2 separate regions of the Homo sapiens genome follow, and region 2 is linked to region 1. The links come from fine-mapping of genetic effects on gene expression. A gene starts in region 1. The other region holds a variant in brackets. All regions are shown on one strand. Distances are from middle to middle. Region 1 holds the start of ID1 (inhibitor of DNA binding 1). Region 2 holds the start of HM13-AS1 (HM13 antisense RNA 1).

Evidence for each region.
Region 2: its variant is fine-mapped to the expression of ID1 in whole blood (TOPMed, PIP above 0.99).

What each region holds. Positions count from the first base shown.
Region 1 is chr20:31,600,578-31,609,810 of GRCh38, forward strand. It overlaps ID1 (inhibitor of DNA binding 1), which reads left to right and starts at 4,712. Exons shown (of 2, transcript NM_002165.4): 1 at 4,712-5,236; 2 at 5,476-5,933. The coding sequence starts at 4,811. The coding sequence ends at 5,517. MIR3193 (microRNA 3193) reads left to right here and starts at 6,609; the gene lies at 6,609-6,663. It overlaps LOC105372588 (a long non-coding RNA gene), which reads right to left and starts at 4,618. Exons shown (of 2, transcript XR_936669.2): 1 at 4,526-4,618; 2 at 4,114-4,368. RefSeq lists silencers at 2,289-2,583, 6,469-6,763, enhancers at 2,325-2,394, 3,336-4,174, 3,910-4,089, 4,479-5,149, 5,150-5,819 and 1 more and a cis regulatory region at 7,825-8,400.
Region 2 is chr20:31,564,917-31,574,149 of GRCh38, forward strand. It overlaps HM13 (histocompatibility minor 13), which reads left to right. Exons shown (of 13, transcript NM_178581.3): 11 at 1,294-1,379; 12 at 3,162-3,308; 13 at 4,204-4,627. The coding sequence ends at 4,303. It overlaps HM13-AS1 (HM13 antisense RNA 1), which reads right to left and starts at 8,347. Exons shown (of 3, transcript NR_046853.2): 1 at 8,226-8,347; 2 at 7,883-8,007; 3 at 2,671-3,032. LOC107985416 (a long non-coding RNA gene) reads left to right here and starts at 8,094. Exons shown (of 3, transcript XR_005647051.2): 1 at 8,094-8,522. RefSeq lists enhancers at 872-1,747, 1,748-2,623, 1,897-2,036, 7,704-8,245 and silencers at 4,690-4,984, 8,047-8,626. The variant T/G (reference allele first, on the strand shown) is at 4,185.

The DNA.
Region 1 (9,233 bases):
CACGAGGTCAGGAGATCGAGACCATCCTAGCTAACACGGTGAAACCCTGTCTCTACTAAAAATACAAAAAATTAGCCGGGCGTGGTGGCGCGTGCCTGTAGTCCCAGCTACTCGGGAGGCTGAGGCAGGAGAATGGCGTGAACCCAGGAGGCAGAGCTTGCAGTGAGCTGAGATCGTACCACTGCACTCCAGCCTGGGCGACAGAGCGAGACTGCATCTCAAAAAAAAAAAAAAGAAGAAAAGAAAAACATTAGCCAGGCGTGGTGGCGGGCACCTGTAGTCCCAGCTACTCAGGAGGCTGAGGCAGGAGAATGTCATGAACCCGGGAGGCGGAGGTTGCAGTGAGCCGAGACCGTGCCATTGCACTCCAGCCTTGGGGACAGAGCGAGACTGTGTCTCAAAAAACAAAAAACAAAAACAAAAAAAGACCGGGCGCGGTGACTCACGCCTGCAAGTGTAGCATTTTTGGGAAGTGGAAAAGGGCGGATAACCTGAGGTCAGGAGTTCGAGACCAGCCTGGCTAATGTGGCGAAATCCCATCTCTACTAAAAATACAAAAATTAGCCAGGTGTGGTGGTGGGCACCTGTAATCCCAGCTACTCGCGAGGCTGAGGCAGGAGAATTGCTTGAATCTGGGAGGTAGAGGTTGCAGTGAGCGGAGATCGTGCCATTGCACTCTAGCCTGGGTGACAGAGCGAGATTCCGTCTCAAAAAAAAAAAAAAGTGGATAGAAGGATATGCATAGGTTTTATACAAATACTATGTCATTTTATTTATTTTATGTATTTATATTTTGAGACAGGGTCTTGCTTTGTCACCCAGGCTGGAATGCCGTGGTGGCATCTTGGCTCACTGCAATCTCCACTTCTTGGGTTCATGAAATTCTCTTGCCTTAGCCTCCCAAGTAGCTGGGATTACAGGTGTGCACCACCACGCCCTGCTAATTTTTCTATTTTTAGTAGAGATGAGGTTTCACCATGTTGGCCAGATTGATCTCGAACTCCTGACCTCAGGTTATCCACCTGGCTTGGCCTTACAAACTGCTGGGATTACAGGCGTGAGCCACTGCGCCTGGCCCTGAATTAATTTCTACAGCATAATTTTCTCTCTTATTTTTATTTTTTTGAATCAGAATCTCACTCTGTCGCCCAGGCTGGAGTGCAGTGGCTTGGTCTCGGCTCTCTGCAACCTCCACCTCCTGGGTTCAAATGATTCTCCTGCCTCAGCCTCCCAGGTACTTGGGACTACAGGCGCCCACCACCACACCTGGCTAATTTTTGTATTTTTAGTAGAGACTGGGTTTTGCTATGTTGGCCAAGCTGGTTTCTCTGGAATTCATTGCAGTAAACAGAATTGCTGGATCAATTAATTCACAGTTGAAGGCCAGGCACTGTGGCTCACGCCTGTAATCCCAGTACTTTGGGAGTCTGAGGTGGAGAGATCACAAGGTCAGGAGTTTGAGACCAGCCTGGCCAACATAGTGAAACCCCGTCTCTACTAAAAAGACAAAAAATTTAGCCTGGTGTGGTGGCGGGCACCTGTAATCCCAGCTACTTGGGAGGCTGAGGCAGAAGAATCGCTTGAACCCAGGAGGCGGAGGTTGCAGTGAACCAAGACTGTGCTATTGCACTCCAGCCTGGGTGACAGTCTGAGACTCTATCTCAAAAAAAAATAAATAAATAGTTGGTGATGGCCAGGCACGGTGGCTCATGCCTGTAATCCCAGCACTTTGGGAGGCCAAGGCGGGCGGATCACCTGAGGTCAGGAGTTTGAGACCACCCTAGGCAACATGGCAAAACCCCGTCTCCACTAAAAATACAAAAATTAGATGGGCGTGGTGGTGGGTGCCTGTAATCCCAGCCTGAGGCAGGAGAATGACTTGAACTCAGGAGGTGGTGGTTGCAGTGAGCTGAGATCGCGCCACTGCACTCCAGTCTGGGCAACAGAGCGAGACTCTGCCTCAAAAATAAACAAAAATAAACACTTGGTGATGAATTAATACTCTAATTTCCTCTGGTTGACTGTTGTTCTTCCAATTATTTGGCAATTCTTTTGAGCAGCAAACTATTCCCTCCCATCATTAATTTAGGATTGCTAAACAAGGCGTAGGGAGTTTAGAGAGTTTTGGTGTGTGTGGTAAGGGGATGAGGAGTCTGGCTAATTAATTGATGATGTCTCTCTCTTTTGAAGCTGGTCTCACTGATTGGTTTGGTTTTCCTGGTTTCCTGATGTGGAGGCAGAAGGCTCCTTTACTTTTCCCTCATCCCCCGAACTTCTGTGGGAAAACGGAACCTGCTGATAACTCAGTGAATTAATTGCTGCGGGGTAGTGCGGTGGAGCGGAGCAGGGAGGGACCATAATATCACCCTCCACTGGTGAGCACAGATTTTTACCCCTGCTAATGTTGTGTGGCTTTGGGTGACTAATCTGAGCTTCGGTTTCCCCACCTGTGGCATGTCCAGGACTCTGCAGTCAGACTGCCTGCTCTCAGCAGGAAGCGGTTGCATTACAACACTGTACCCTCCTTATAATAACACAACTATGGTTATGACTTAGGCGTCGTGTGGAGCCTCAGTTTCCTTTGTATAAAGAAACCAAAGAGCTCCTTTCTTTAGAGTTGTGAAAAAGACTACAGAAGTTGATCAAGCCGGGTGACAGAGTAAGACCCTGTATCATTATTATTTTATTTTGAAACAGAGTCCCACTCTGTCGCCCAGGCTGGAGTGCAGTGGCATAATCTCGGCTCACTACAACCTCCGCCTCCTGGGTTCCAGCGAGTCTCCTGCCTCAGCCTCCTGAGTAGCTGGGGTATTACAGGTGCGCGCCACCACACCTGGCTAATTTTTCATTTTTAGTAGAGACGGGATTTCACCATGTTGGTCAGGCTGGTCTCGAACTCCTGACCTCGTGATCTGCCCACCACGGCCTCCCAAAGTGCTGGGATTACAGGCGTGAGCCACTGCGCCCGGCCCCCTGTATCCTTTTTTTTTTTTTTTTTTTTGAGACGAGTCTCACTCTGTCGCCAGGCTTGAGTGCAGTGGTGCGATCTCGGCTCACTGCAACCTCCGCCTCCCAGGTTCAAGCAATTCTCCTGTCTCAGCCTCCCGAGTAGCTGGGATTACAGGCGAACGCTACCATGCCCGGCTAATTTTTGTATTTTTAGTAGAGATGGGGTTTCACCATATTGGTCAGGCTGGTCTCGAACTCCTGACCTCAGGCAATCCACCCGCCTCGGCCTTCCAAATTGTTGGGATTACAGGCGTGAGCCACCGCGCAGCCCTTCATTTTTTAAAATAAGAAATAAATGAAAAAAGATGATCAAGACAAACTCTTCATACAGTGCCCGCTGTACAAAGTAAGAAATTAATAATGGTCACGTTTGTGATTATTATTTAAACACCAAGCAGATATTAAATATTAGGGCTCAGAGAGGGCATGCGACCCGCCTGAATTCACTCAGCTGCAGAGCTGGAAAGAGAACTCAGGCCTTTTTCCCCACGCTGGAAGGGGTAGCTGGGGCGGAGAGGTGGGGGGAGCGGTGAAGAAACCCCAAGCGGCCCAAGCTGTGGGTCTGGGTTGGGAGACTCGCAGGTGTGGGGCGGGGAGGTAAGGTGACCCTTGCTCAGCGACCGCGCCCGCAAGAAACGCATTCCCAGGCCTCCCGCCCGGGGTCTGCAGGTGACGGGCTGGGGGGAGCACGGGAACTAGCTAGACCAGTTTGTCGTCTCCATGGCGACCGCCCGCGCGGCGCCAGCCTGACAGTCCGTCCGGGTTTTATGAATGGGTGACGTCACAGGCCTGGCGTCTAACGGTCTGAGCCGCTGGTTCAGACGCTGACACAGACCGGCCCGGGAAGGGAGGGGGGAGACTGTAGCTCCGCAGCTGCCGCGCCGTGGGAGGGAGACCCTGCTCTGAGGTCTTTGAGAAGAAAATTTAAAAAGCAGCCAAAAATGGGAAAAAACATTAAAAAATCACGAACTGTTGCAGGTTCAGGAAATTTTTGCAAGGAGCTGCAAATTCAAGGTGGAATCGAATGCAGCCTCACTCCACTGCGCTCTATCTAGTTCACTTCCCAGCCACCCAGCCCCAAACTTACTAGACTTTCCCGAATTAATTGCTCCCACCCGGGAGGGATCTGGGTAGGCCCTCCGGGTCTCAGGAACACGAACAGCAACATTATTTAGGAATTGAGAAAGCCCAGGGGAGCAGATGTAAAGGAGCGCCCGCTTTAAATTTCGGTCCTGATATTTGTAGATCAGGGTCCGAGAAGCATCTTCCAAGAGGGTCCGGAAACCCAGGCTCTCTGGGCTATCCAGAGCCAGCCGCTTCTCCGTTCGGGCCTCAATTTCTCTCATCTGTGAAATGGAGCTGGAGAAGTGAGAAAGTGAATATGGGAAAAACTGATTCCTGAGGTCTTTTCATTATAAGGCAATGCCTGCTTAGCTTCCTTGCCTCCTTCCAGAGGAGCCCAGTGCGGCCCTCGCCTCTACCCGCTGCCCTGCCCGGTGCCCTGCCACCGACCCACCCTTGCTGTTCTGAAACCCGGGTCGTCTTTCCACACTGCGAGCAGGCACTAGACGAGCAGGAGGCTGGACCTAGGAGCGCGGGTCACGCCCCCATGCCGCCCATTGGCTGCTTTTGAACGTTCTGAGCCCGCCCCTCCGGGGGCCGTGGCGTGTTTATAAAAGACAAGCTGTGGCTCCGCACTCTCATTCCACGTTCTTAACTGTTCCATTTTCCGTATCTGCTTCGGGCTTCCACCTCATTTTTTTCGCTTTGCCCATTCTGTTTCAGCCAGTCGCCAAGAATCATGAAAGTCGCCAGTGGCAGCACCGCCACCGCCGCCGCGGGCCCCAGCTGCGCGCTGAAGGCCGGCAAGACAGCGAGCGGTGCGGGCGAGGTGGTGCGCTGTCTGTCTGAGCAGAGCGTGGCCATCTCGCGCTGCGCCGGGGGCGCCGGGGCGCGCCTGCCTGCCCTGCTGGACGAGCAGCAGGTAAACGTGCTGCTCTACGACATGAACGGCTGTTACTCACGCCTCAAGGAGCTGGTGCCCACCCTGCCCCAGAACCGCAAGGTGAGCAAGGTGGAGATTCTCCAGCACGTCATCGACTACATCAGGGACCTTCAGTTGGAGCTGAACTCGGAATCCGAAGTTGGAACCCCCGGGGGCCGAGGGCTGCCGGTCCGGGCTCCGCTCAGCACCCTCAACGGCGAGATCAGCGCCCTGACGGCCGAGGTGAGATCCAGATCCGACCACTAGATCATCCTTATACCGACGGGGAAACGGAGGCCAGAGAGGGCGTGGGCGCTTGCACCACTTCCGTCCCATCCTTGCGGGTACCTGGCTATGCGGGGGTGCCTAAGGAGCCTGGAAAAAGCGCTCCCCCGTCGTGCTTCCTGGGGAAGGGGGCGTTCGCTGCGCTCGGAGCGGCGTCCCTTCCAACCCGCCGGTCTCATTTCTTCTCGTTTTCACAGGCGGCATGCGTTCCTGCGGACGATCGCATCTTGTGTCGCTGAAGCGCCTCCCCCAGGGACCGGCGGACCCCAGCCATCCAGGGGGCAAGAGGAATTACGTGCTCTGTGGGTCTCCCCCAACGCGCCTCGCCGGATCTGAGGGAGAACAAGACCGATCGGCGGCCACTGCGCCCTTAACTGCATCCAGCCTGGGGCTGAGGCTGAGGCACTGGCGAGGAGAGGGCGCTCCTCTCTGCACACCTACTAGTCACCAGAGACTTTAGGGGGTGGGATTCCACTCGTGTGTTTCTATTTTTTGAAAAGCAGACATTTTAAAAAATGGTCACGTTTGGTGCTTCTCAGATTTCTGAGGAAATTGCTTTGTATTGTATATTACAATGATCACCGACTGAAAATATTGTTTTACAATAGTTCTGTGGGGCTGTTTTTTTGTTATTAAACAAATAATTTAGATGGTGGTAAAGTTGTAGTGACTTCTTGGGTTGAGGGGAGGGGCCTGGGCTGGGGGTTGACCCCTGACCCTCTTCACAGCTGGTTCTGGGAGGAGAATTGGAGGGCTACATCTGGATTGTTGCTCTTACCGGCCTGAATGAGTGTTTCCGGTGTCTTTAAAGTCTATTCTTCCCCCACCATCCCTGCCCATTTCCCTGCTCCCCAGTGTTATAAAACTAAATACTCCAGACCTCTGGGGTTTCTCACAGTGATCATTGGGCCATCTAGATCACCTGGGGAGGTTGTTAAAATGCAGATGAACCTGCCAGGGCCCCCTCTGTATTGGGAGTATTGAGCAAGCCATTTAAGTTGGAGAACCTGGCCGCTGGACCACCCACTTCCTTGCCAAGATGTGGATAAAGTGAGACCCAGTGGAAAGGGACTTGCTTAGGGCCATAGCTTGTGAGAGGCAGTGATTCTATCACCCCATTCCCCAGTTGGAGGTGCCTCCCCCAACAGCCTACCTCTGGGTTCCAGCAGGCAGCCCTGGGGCTCCTGGCTCATCCAAGTGGGTGAGCAAGTTGGCAGGGCCAGGCTGGGCACAGCTGCCGAGACACCTGCTCTGGGTCCAGACTCGGCCTCCTCACTCTGGCCTGGCTCTGTCGGCAGTTCAAACAAATCTCCCCCACCAACCCCGGGGCTCCTGCGTAGGATCTGAGGAGTGGACGAGTCTCATTACCCAGCTCCTGAGCAGGAAAAATATGTCATTGGCAAGGGTCTAAGAATCTTCCTGGACATGTATGTGGATTTCTACTCAGGGGAGCATGTATGAGTGTCTACGCCTGTGTATGTAACAGGAGTAAGCTGATCTTCCCCCACTACTCCCACAGTGGGGATGGGCCAACTGTTCACATATAGGCTTGGGGGAGGGGGTGTAAGTAGGAGTATGCTTGGGGGTGTGTGCAGAAGGGCAAATGAGAGCACATGTGTTCTGCAGATAAGTGTGGAACCTCCAGCTGTTTGGGCTTGTGTGTTCTGCCTAAATGCATTGTAGGCATCTCTGCATGGGTCTGGCATGATGGATGGGTTTGTGTGTCTGGGGGCCACAGAACCACACTGTGGGTTTCTGTGTGTATAACTGTTCTATAGATTGGTTGGCATTCCTGGGCCTCTGCGGGTCTGGAGTGAAGGTGGGGACAGCTGTGTTTGGGCAAACCCTTCCTCAAAAGTTCACGTGGCAACTCCCTGGGCTATCGTTAGGTCCTGGGGGCACCAACCCTCAAGGATTGCTGCCAGGTAAACCCCCCTGTATTACATATGGAGAAACTGAGTCCCAGGAATGACAAAGAACTTGTCCCAGACAGGTAAGGGCTATTAATATATTTTGTCAATAAACAATAGAATAAAATCAATAGCCCTTAGCACCAGAAGCCTGGCTCTGCTCAACTGAACCCTTTACAAAAACGATTTCATGGATCCCTGTGGGGCTAAAGGCAAGACTGTGATCCCAGTTTTACAGCAGAAGGAACAAGCTCAGAGAGGGGATGAACAAAAAATCAAATGAAAGATTATGATTTGAGCACTAACATTAAGCCAGGTACACCCCCTCCACAGTTTATGGATTTTATCGAAGAACCCAGTACTTGCAGGCGAATTATGTTCTTTGCTACCTCCTCCCCACCGGCTGCTGTATTACAGTACTAACCTCACGGAATGTAGTACAGAATAAATGAAATAAAGTAAGTGTGTAAAACGTTTAGCACAGTGCTTGGCACAGAATGTTTCATAGTTATAAATTATTATTGTCGCCTGTGAGTCCTTGGAGTGTCCTCGGAGGCACACGTGTGCACGCACGCACTCTCACGTGTGGGCCCCCGCCTGCAAGCCCACCCACGGGGTCTGAGCGGGTTCCCCCTCGCGTACTCCGACATGCAGGGCCTTTTTCCAGGGGAGGAAGGGGCTGCGGCGGGGGCCTGGGCCACCTCCCCCGCCATTCAGGCACACTCTGGATTCCACGTTTCCCTCTGTTCCCCTTTGGCCCAGACCCAGCCCATCTGGAGGCCGGCTCCGCGGCGGCCTGGGAGCGTTTCCATCAGCTGGGCCCGAGGAATGCGGAGCTATTTAACCTGAGCATCCCCAGGTGTACGGAGGCGCCTGGCTGTCTGGGGCCCGCAGCCTTTGGCACAGCCGCGCTAGACAAACAGCGCGCCGCCCCCGCCCTGCCCCTCCGCCCCCAGCTGCAGCCGGGCCTGGGAACCGGCGGGCGCCGGCGGCTTGCATAAGAGGCTCCGGGCCTCGCAGAGGGAGGGGGGACAGAGGCCACCGGTGTGTGTGCATGTAACACACAAAACCCTGCTCCTTTGGAAATCATTAACTCCTTAACCCCTCCTGGACAGGACGAAGCCAGGAGCTGGGGTGGAAGATGCCGAGAAACCCGAGGACCAAGTTTCTTGGGCACTGGACTCTGCCTTTCCGGGGCTGTACTGTTAATTTTATTTAAGAAATACAGAGAGCTTATTGTGTGCTGGGCACCATGCTAAACTCTTTACAATATCAATTCATTTAATCGTCAGAACTTGTTAACGAGGCCAGTGCTATCATCATATGCTCATTTTAATAAGAGCAACCACCACCACTACAACAAGAGTAATAGGCTAACATTTTAGTAGGGAGGCAGGTAGAACACAAGCCCAGAATCAACCTTGATGCTCATCACTTCACCTGTCAGAGCCTCTTCTTTTTTGGAAAACGGGCTTCAGAACCTGGGCTTCAAGGATTAATTGAACCAATGCACCTAAAAAGCATAGCACAGGCTCATGGTAGATACTTAGTGCATATTGCAATAAAGTGTTTTGAGCGGATTGTCTCAACAGCCCTACCAGGTGTGGGCCTACTGGTATATTCACTTTTTTGGTTTTTTTGAGACAGAGTCTCCCTCTATTGCCCAGGCTGGGGTGCGGTGGCACCATCTTGGCTCACTGCAACCTCCACCTCCCAGGTTCAAGTGATCCTCCTGCCTCAGCCTCCCGAGTAGCTGGGATTACAGGCACGTGCCACCATGCCCAGCTAATTTTTGTATTTTTTTTGTAGAAAAGGGTTTTCACCATGTTGGCCAGGCTAGTCTCGAACTCTTGACCTGAAGGGATCTGCCCACCTCAGCTTCCCGAAGAGCTGGGATTACAGATGTAAGCCACCGTGCCCGGCCTGTGTTCACTTTTCAGATGAGAAAACGGAGGCATCAAAGAGGTGAGGTGACCCACCCAAGGCCACATTGCACATTACCTTAGAGGACTTTCCAGAAATCAGACTTGTCTAAATCAGGTTTA
Region 2 (9,233 bases), 36 kb before region 1:
GCACTTTGGGAGGCCAAGGCAGGCAGATCACAAGGTCAAGAGATCGAGACCATCCTGGCCAACACGGTGAAACCCTGTCTCTACTAAAAATACAAAAAAATTAGCCGGGCATGGTGGCAGGCACCTGTAGTCCCAGCTACTCCGGAGGCTAAGGCAGAAGAATGGTGTGAACCTGGGAGGCAGAGCTTGCAGTGAGCCAAGATCACACCACTGCACTCCAGCCTGGGTGACAGAGCCAGACTCCATCTCAAAAAAAAAAAAAAAAGAAAGAAACTCTTTGGGCTGGGCGTGGTGCCTCAGGCCTATAATCCCAGCAATTTGGGAGGCCGAGGCAGGTGGATCACCTGAGGTCAGGAGTTCGAGACCACCATGGCGAACGTGGTGAAACCCCATCTCTAGTAAAAATACAAAAATTAGCCAGGCGTGGTGGCAGGCACCTGTAGTCCCAGCTACTCAGGAGGCTGAGGCAGGAGAATCGCTTGAACCCTGGAGGCGGAGGTTGCAGTGAGCCAAGATTGCACCATTGCACTCCAGCCTGGGCAACAAGAGTCAGAGACTCTGTCTCAAAAAAAAAAAAAAAAAAAGATTTGGGTCTCTGAGTCCTGGGCTATTTTCCCTCTCCTTGTGAAGCATTGGTCTTCCTCCTCTGCAAAAGGATAACCATCATGGGATGTGGCAGTGGGCTGACTTCCTGGGAAGGCTAAGCTCAGTGCCTGCACAGTAGATGTTCATGAACAGGGTCTTAGTATAACCGTCCTTTTCTCCAAACCCAGCTTTACCAGGAGTCTCAGCACAGACATGCCAAATTGCTTGGGTGTGAATCCTGGGGGAGCCAGTGACCAGCTAGGTCACCTTAATACAGGCTGCAACAAGTAGTTATTACATAGCAGCTGTGGTGTCATCATCACTATAATAGCATCTCCTGGAGCATTTGCTAAAATGCAGGTGTGAGCCCCAGACCTCAGGAAGCAGAGTCTCTGGGAGTAGGACCAAACCAGGAAGTTGCTTTTTGAACCTGGTGACCTAGGTGATTCAGATGCTGCCAGCCAAACCCCTGGGAACCCTTGAAGCCCTGCCTACTTGAGTTTCTTAGTTTTCTTGCATTCCCTCTCGGGAGGAGCAACCCTTGTCTGGGAGTTAGGAGCCCTGGGTTCAGGCCCAGCCACTGACTTGCTATGGTCCTGGACCAGTCACTGTCCTTCAGTCCAGCCCAGAAGGGGTTTGGGGTGCTGGGCACGGCCCTGAGGCAGTGCCGTGCCCAGCATGGCTTCACCAGCCTGTGTCCTCTCATAGCCTGCCCTCCTATACCTGGTCCCCGCCTGCATCGGTTTTCCTGTCCTGGTGGCGCTGGCCAAGGGAGAAGTGACAGAGATGTTCAGGTAAGGCAGAGTGGGGGGCAGATGTCCTCATGGGCACCAGTGTGCCTGCTGGCAGTCAGTGGAACCTGCTGGGGGTATCTTTACACCTCTCCAGGGGAACATTGTTCCTGCCACCAGCCCCACCCCTTGCCTTTTTCAGCAGTACATGGGTACCTGGCCTGTGGACACCAGTGGGAACCTTACCCTGGGCCAGGAGCCAGGGGAGCGCAAGGCATCAGAGCCCTCTAGGCATCCCCCATCCAAATGTTAGCTGGATCTTAAGAATAGCTGTTGTGGATTTTTCTCTGCCTACTGTCAGAAGTCCTAGGTGACTCTGCCCCCAGGTGACTTCAGGCATGTCTTCCCCTCCCATGGCCTCAGTTTTCACATGTGAGTAATAGAACAGGGGGCGTGTGGGATGCCCTAGTGTGGTAGAAAGTGCCCCGAGTAGAAGGCAGGTGTCAGTCCCTGTTCATTCACCTCTGTGGCTTTAACCCACAGCTCACTGCTTTCTCTATATCTGTATCTCACACAGATACCCCTTCCCCAGGGCCATATCCACACCTACCACACCCTGCACACAGCCCCACCCATACCGCAAGGCCTGCGTGACTCCAACAGGTGTCTGCCCCCAGCACTGCCGACCCTGCCTGCCAGGGACCTAGAAATAGCTGTCAGTTGCGATTAAAGCTGCCTACTCGGGTGCCTTCCGCCCAGTTCCACCTGCCTGGCCTCCAAGCTGTCCCTAGAGCGCTTGCCAGGGCCTCCTGTGCACCTGGCTCCCCGCAGGGGAGCCTGTGACTCACCCCTCCCCCGGACCTGCCTCTGCCCTCCCTGTCCTGTCTAGAATCCCCAGCCCCCCGCCTGCCTGCCCACATTGCCTCGCCCAGCAAAGCTCTGTGGTCTGAGGCAAGTGGGGGCTAGGGGTGAACTTGGGGACAGGTCTCAGGGAGCTTTGGGAGCAGGCATGGCACCCGATCCCTGAGCTTAGCACCCATCCTTCACCCTCCCTCTGCTTCCCATCCAGCCCAGGTTTCCCTGCCCCTCCCCTTGGGGTAACCACCCAATGCTATTGTGCCCTCATCAGGCAAAGCTCTGAATACACAAGGCAGAGGGTGCCCCTGGCCTTTACCTGCTTGGTGCTAAATGCTCTGCCATACAGGTACCCTGCCCCCACTGTTTGCCCTCCACTCCCACCCTGGACATTCTTAGATTGGGGTAAAAAGCAAGTGATCTCTCTCTCTCTCTCTCTCCCTCCTTTCTCCCCATTTCTCTCCCAATTCTCCACCTTTTTACTTTTCCCTTCTATTCTCCTCCTTTTTTTATTGATTTACTTATTTTTATATTGGTACCACATTCACATAGTTAAAAATTCCAAAGCTGTAACAGAGAGAGCACCCTCATGCTCCAGCTACCCCACAGAGGCCAGCAGTGTTACACAGACATTCAGACACCTGTGCACTGATGTGTGTATACTTTTTCTTGCACAGACGGTGGCATTCTTGGAGCATTCTGCACATTGGGTTTCTACGGTATTTCTTAGAGGTGTTTCCACAGCAGCACATACACTTCTAGAGCATGCTTGTTCTTCTGCACAGTGGCCTGATGTGCCTTTGTCTAGGTGCATCTTTCTTTTTTCATTCTCCAAATAATATCAGCTTCTTTCCATAAAATCTGGAAGTGCAAAAATAGGTAAAAACAAGACAGTTCTGCTCTCTGCTCCTTGGAAAGGAAGTCTCTGTCCTCCCTTAGTCTTTCCCTATCCATCTCTTTTTTTCTGTCTCTTCTCTCTCTCTCACACAGCTACGAGTCCTCGGCGGAAATCCTGCCTCATACCCCGAGGCTCACCCACTTCCCCACAGTCTCGGGCTCCCCAGCCAGCCTGGCCGACTCCATGCAGCAGAAGCTAGCTGGCCCTCGCCGCCGGCGCCCGCAGAATCCCAGCGCCATGTAATGCCCAGCGGGTGCCCACCTGCCCGCTTCCCCCTACTGCCCCGGGGCCCAAGGTAGGGCAGACACTGCAGCTCCAGTGCATAGGGCAGGGACCATTGCCAGGAGTAGGCCGCAAGAGCAGCTCCTCCACAACCACCAGGCAGTGGTTGCACCGAGCCATAGGGCTGGGAAGCAGGACAACCCCGAAGCTTCCTGCCCTCACCAGTAATGCGGGGCCCACATCATAGTGGATGGAAATGGCCCTTGTCATGCAGTAGTAGATACTGTTACCATTCAAGGTATATGTATAACCTTAGGCAAGTTACTTTCTTCATCTGTAAGTGGGCACATTCCTGCCTCACGGGGTTTATCTGGTGAGGAAAGATTTGTATTATCTTTGGCATGAACTCAGTTGCTTGAAAAATGAAGCCCATAGAAGAAGCTAAGCCAGGGTGTCTGTCTTCAGAGCAGCACCTTGCCGCTTGCCAGTACAGCAGTGCCCTCACCTCTGGGGCTGAGCTGTTTGATTCATGCTGTGTGCCCTGGGAGGCAGCCTATCTCCATCTCTTGTAGCCTTGTCATGGCCACCCCTTTTTCCACGCTACAGCAGAAGGTTCAGGAAGCTTGAAATCAGCCCACACAAGCCCAGGCCCAACCTCTCTTCCATTGGCTGCTGCCCTTGCTGCCTCCTGGTACCCCCAGGCTCAGAGAAAGCAGAGCAGCCTGCCTGAGGAGGGCATGTGGTAGGGCTGGGGCCAGGCGCTGTTAGGTGCTGGGCAGTGGACACAGGGCTGACGCTCTGCATGTGACCAGGCGCTTTCCTAGGATGGGGGTGGGGGAAGGGGACAACCAAGGTTCTGCTCACCCTCTCCTCTAAATGAATTTTTATTGTTG[T/G]TTTTTTTTTTTTGGTCAGTTATGAGGAGTCAAATCCTAAGGATCCAGCGGCAGTGACAGAATCCAAAGAGGGAACAGAGGCATCAGCATCGAAGGGGCTGGAGAAGAAAGAGAAATGATGCAGCTGGTGCCCGAGCCTCTCAGGGCCAGACCAGACAGATGGGGGCTGGGCCCACACAGGCGTGCACCGGTAGAGGGCACAGGAGGCCAAGGGCAGCTCCAGGACAGGGCAGGGGGCAGCAGGATACCTCCAGCCAGGCCTCTGTGGCCTCTGTTTCCTTCTCCCTTTCTTGGCCCTCCTCTGCTCCTCCCCACACCCTGCAGGCAAAAGAAACCCCCAGCTTCCCCCCTCCCCGGGAGCCAGGTGGGAAAAGTGGGTGTGATTTTTAGATTTTGTATTGTGGACTGATTTTGCCTCACATTAAAAACTCATCCCATGGCCAGGGCGGGCCACTGTGCTCCTGGAAGATTCTCTGTTTAAGCACCCAGTGTCTTGCCCTGGGTTTTCTAGGTCTCACCTGCCCACCCAAAATCTTTTCTGCAAGCCCCTTAAGGGTGCCCACCCCAGTGCCTGGCCAGCCCTGCACCCGTAAAACACCTTTTAGCCAGTAGAGGGGGCCCACGAGCCCTCTCTCACCAGCTAGCACTTTTCTCACCACCTTCCTCGAAATACTTGGGGGCAGCAAGGGTGTTGGCAGATGAGAGTCTCCCACTCACCATGGTGAGAGTGGTGGGGAGTACCCAGGGCTGACCTGACTCACAAGGGAAGCAGTAACTGTAGAACCTGCCAGCCTCCCTGGTCCCTGTGCCCATATGGCTTCGGCTGATGAGGGCTCAGACTCTAGGTTGCCCTGAAGATCAAGGCTTTGTCTCCCATTCTGCCCATTCCTGGGTTTCTTCCCAAAATGACTACTGTGGGGCCAGTCATGGCACAAGGGCCAGGACCTCTAGAGGCTGGGGTGGGGAAGGACTGAGCTAGTGATTCTTAGAGGCCTTCTGGGGCCTAAGAGCTGAAATCTCAGCGCCCGGGTTTCCCTAAAGTTTGCTGAAGACAGCAGCCCCGGCCAGCAGGAGACCGACCGGGCACCACCCCAAACCAGGCAAACGGTGGCCACAACCCTCATCCACCCACCTGGTATGAGGTCACTGAGTGGGGAAACAGACAGGAGCGGGTGGCCACCATACTGACAGACCCGGGGCTCTCCCTTGCCCAAGCTTCAGGTTCAAAGGCTGAAAATAACAGTGGCTTCCAGTTTGGAAGTGGCCAAAGGACAATCATGACCAGAGACTCAGGAGTATGACTGTAATACCCTCACTAGGTATTGACATGCACTAAGCACCTTGATATAGGATTTCACTTCCTTCTGAGTCTTGGGCTGTATGTGCTATTATTCGCTCCGCTGTGCAGATGAGGGAATTGAGGCAGCTTGCCCATGGACATCGATTTGACCTTAGCCAAGCCAAACAATTCCAGGTTCCTAAGGACCGCAGCTCCTCCCCAGACCCCTGGGACCAAGTCACTGGCTGGTGTGCTGGGCATCCCTGAGCCCCAGCCACCCAATTTTACTGGCTCCAGGGTTCTATAGGAAGGAAAAGGGGTAGAAAATTTCAAAAGGCTTCTTCCTTTCAGGGAGGGGGGTTCCCTTTCAGGGGCTTCTGGAATCTCTACCCACTCCAGCCAACTCTGAGGCCATGTGGTCCTGGAACAAGGCCCCTCTGAGGCAGATGGGGCAGGCGGCCCAGGCACATAGCATGGTTGGCTCTGCGGCCCAGGGCGCACAAAGGCCTTATTGAGTCACCACCAGCCCCCGGCAGAGGCTGAGGTGGCAGTGGCGCCGAGCGCCTGCCACCTAATGACTGTCCTGGTCCAGCCAGATGTTCCACAGACCTCCGGAGCAGCGGACTAGGGCCCGCCCGGCCAGCCGGCACCGCAGAGGCCACTGTAATTCCAATTAACCAGCTTCAGCTGAGCAAACAGCGGGCAGTGGTGGCCCAGCCCAGGCGGTAGGCCTGGCCCGCAGAGCCTGCGAGTCTAGACTCCAGATGTGAACCGCCACCATCAGAGTCCCATGGAAAAATGGCACCAGGCCGGGCAAGGATTGGGCCTGCATGCTGGGGAGGGGGTGTGGGTGGTTGGGCAGGGCCCCGAGTGGGCTAGATGCCAGCCTCACCTGGTTTGGGGTGGATTATTAGGAAACTGCTCTAGAACCCAAGTTCTACCCTGCTTTATTAGATTCTGTTTCTGTGCCTCAGTCTCCCATGACTGCGACAAGAGAGAGGGTTCCAAGGGGAAAACCAGCCCTGCTGAGACCCCAGTGTGCACTGACTGTATTTCACGTGACTAGCATTATGCTAGTGCAACTGACCCTTGAACAACACAGGGATTAGGGGCACCAACCCATCATGGTCGAAAATCTGTATAACTTTTCAGTCCCGCAAAACAACTAATAGTCTGCTGTTGACCAGAAGCCTTACCTGATAACATAAACAGTCAAAACATCTTGTATGTTATACGTACTACACTGTCTACCATAGAGTAAGCTAGAGAAAATGTAATTAAGAAAATCCTAAGAGCCAGGCATGGTGGCTCATGCCTGTAATCCCAGCATTTTGGGAGGCCAAGATGGGCAGATCAGGAGGTCAGGAGATCGAGACCATCCTGGCTAACATGGTGAAACCCCCGTTTCTACTAAAAATACAAAAAATTAGCCGGGCATGATGGCAGGCGCCTGTAGTCTCAGCTACTCGGGAGGCTGAGGCAGGAGAATGGCCTGAACCCGGGAGGCAGAGCTTGCAGTAAGCCGAGAGAGGCAGGCGGATCACAAAGTCAGGAGTTCGAGACCAGCCTGGCCAATATGGTGAAACCCCGACTCTACTAAAAATACAAAAATTAGCCTGGCATGGTGGCAGGCGACTGTAGTCCCAGCTACTCAGGAGGCTGAGGTGGGAGAATCACTTGAACCCAAGAGGCGGAGGTTGCAGTGAGCCAAGATTGCACCACCGCACTCCAGCCTGGGGGACAGAGTGAGACTCCGTCTCAAAAAAAAAAAAATTATTCAGTGAAAGTGGATCATCATAAATAAAGATCTTCATCCTGGTCTCTGTGTTGAGGAAGAGGAGGGGGTTGGTCTTGGTGTCTCAGGGGTGGCAGAGGTAGAAAAAAAGTCCACGTTTAAGTGCACCTGCACAATTGAAACCCGTGTTCAAGTTTCAAATGTATCTTAAGATTTACTTAATCGTTGTAACAACACTTTGAGGTACCTACATCATTCTTACGATGGGGAAACTGAGGCAGAGACCGTAAGGGCGGGCCCAGGGGGCATGTGAACCCAGAGTGTCTGGCTTCCAAGACTCGTATTCACCGTGGTGCCGTTTGACATGATCAGGATAATGGATCCCTGGTTCCTTTTGGGGGCAGCATTGGAGAAGGGGGTTTGGCACCGTCAGTCTGACAGCAGGGCTGGCTCCTGCAGTGTGAATGAAGCGGTCTTGTGCTCGACTGTGAAGGGGGGTTAGGACCTGCTTCCCAGGGCGGGTCCAGCTTTCTGAGGGAAAGCCTTCAGAGCCTCCATCAGGCCGGCACCAGGTACCAGTTAAGCACTGGGCAGGGAACAGAAGTGGTCAAACGCCGCTTGCCGCGACTTGAAACTGCTGAATAAATGGATAATGTCAAGCGCTATGGCTTAGGGCAGTAGTACCTCCGGTTCCTACGATCGTGTCTGGGGTCCCTGAGGAGCAAGGCAAGAGTCGGCCATTCAGGAGGTCAGAGTTCAGCTGTTCTTGCACAAGCAGGGAAGCTGAGTCACCCCAAACACGGGCAAGACTAGCGGTGGTATCAAATGGCTATCAGGGGCGGGGCCTCAGGGGCCTGCCCCTGCCTCCCCGCCCTGCGTTTGGATTCCCTCCAGCATTCCGGGCCAGGGCGCGGGAGGCGGAGGCCGAGGAGAGGACGGGAGGAGGCTGCATCCTGCCCTGGTGCGTCAGGAAGGGCCGAGCGAGCGGGAAGGAAAGCACCACCCCCCACCCCCGCCGCGGCCACACCTGGGTTCTCCAGGCGGGCAGGGGGGCCCCCGGGCCGGCGCCTGGCTCCAGCAAGTCTGGGCCGCCTCCCCGCGCCGCCCCGCGGGGGCCGCCAGATGGGCTGCCCGCCCGCCAGCTCAGCGACGCAGGCAGGAAACGCCGGCCGGGCTGCCAGGAACGCGCGCAGGGGAGGGGGCGGGCCCGGCCGGGCCACGCCCGCCGGAGGGGAAGGAGGGGCCAAGCACCGCCCGGCGGGGACTGGTGAGCTCCAAGAGCCTGCGATCCCGGTCCCTGCCTTTACTAGATGGGTTTCCTTGGGTAGGTCGTTTTACTTCTCTGTGCCTCACTTTCCCTACCTGTAAAGCGGGGCTGCCTGTCTCCGCTCTTTTTCCCTTTTCTCTTTTATTTGTGCAGCAGGGTTTCACTCTGTCGCCCAGGCTGAAGTGCAGTGGCGCGATCACGGCCCACTGCAACCTCGACCTCCTGGGCTCAAGCGATCCTCCCACCTCAGGTGGGAATATAGGTGTGTCCCACCACGCCTGGCTTTTTTTTTTTTCCCCTAGTTGAAACGGCGGTTCTCACTCTTGCTCAGGCTGGTCTCGAACTCAGGCTCAAGCAATCTTCCCACCTCGGCCTCCCAAAGTGCTGGGATTAGAGGCGTGAGCCACCGCGCCGTGCCTCAGCTATTTTCGTGTGACCGTGTGATCTCAGGACACTTTCTTTCCCTTCTCTTCCTTGGTTTTCTTACCTGAAAAATGGGGTGAACAATTGAACCTCCCTCAACCATGGGCTAAGCCTTTGTTTTCCTCTCCACCGTAGCCCCAACACTTGGCCCATTGCCTGAAACATGAAGGCACTCAGTATTTGTTGTAAGAGTGACTATAAAGGTTTGGGACAATCCTGAGGGCCTGGCTACAGCAGGCACTTCATAAATGGACACAAATTATCAAATTACCTAGAGTCTAATGTTTACCAACCTGCGGCTTCAGGCAAGTGACTTCCCATCTCTGAGCTTCACTTTCCTCGTCT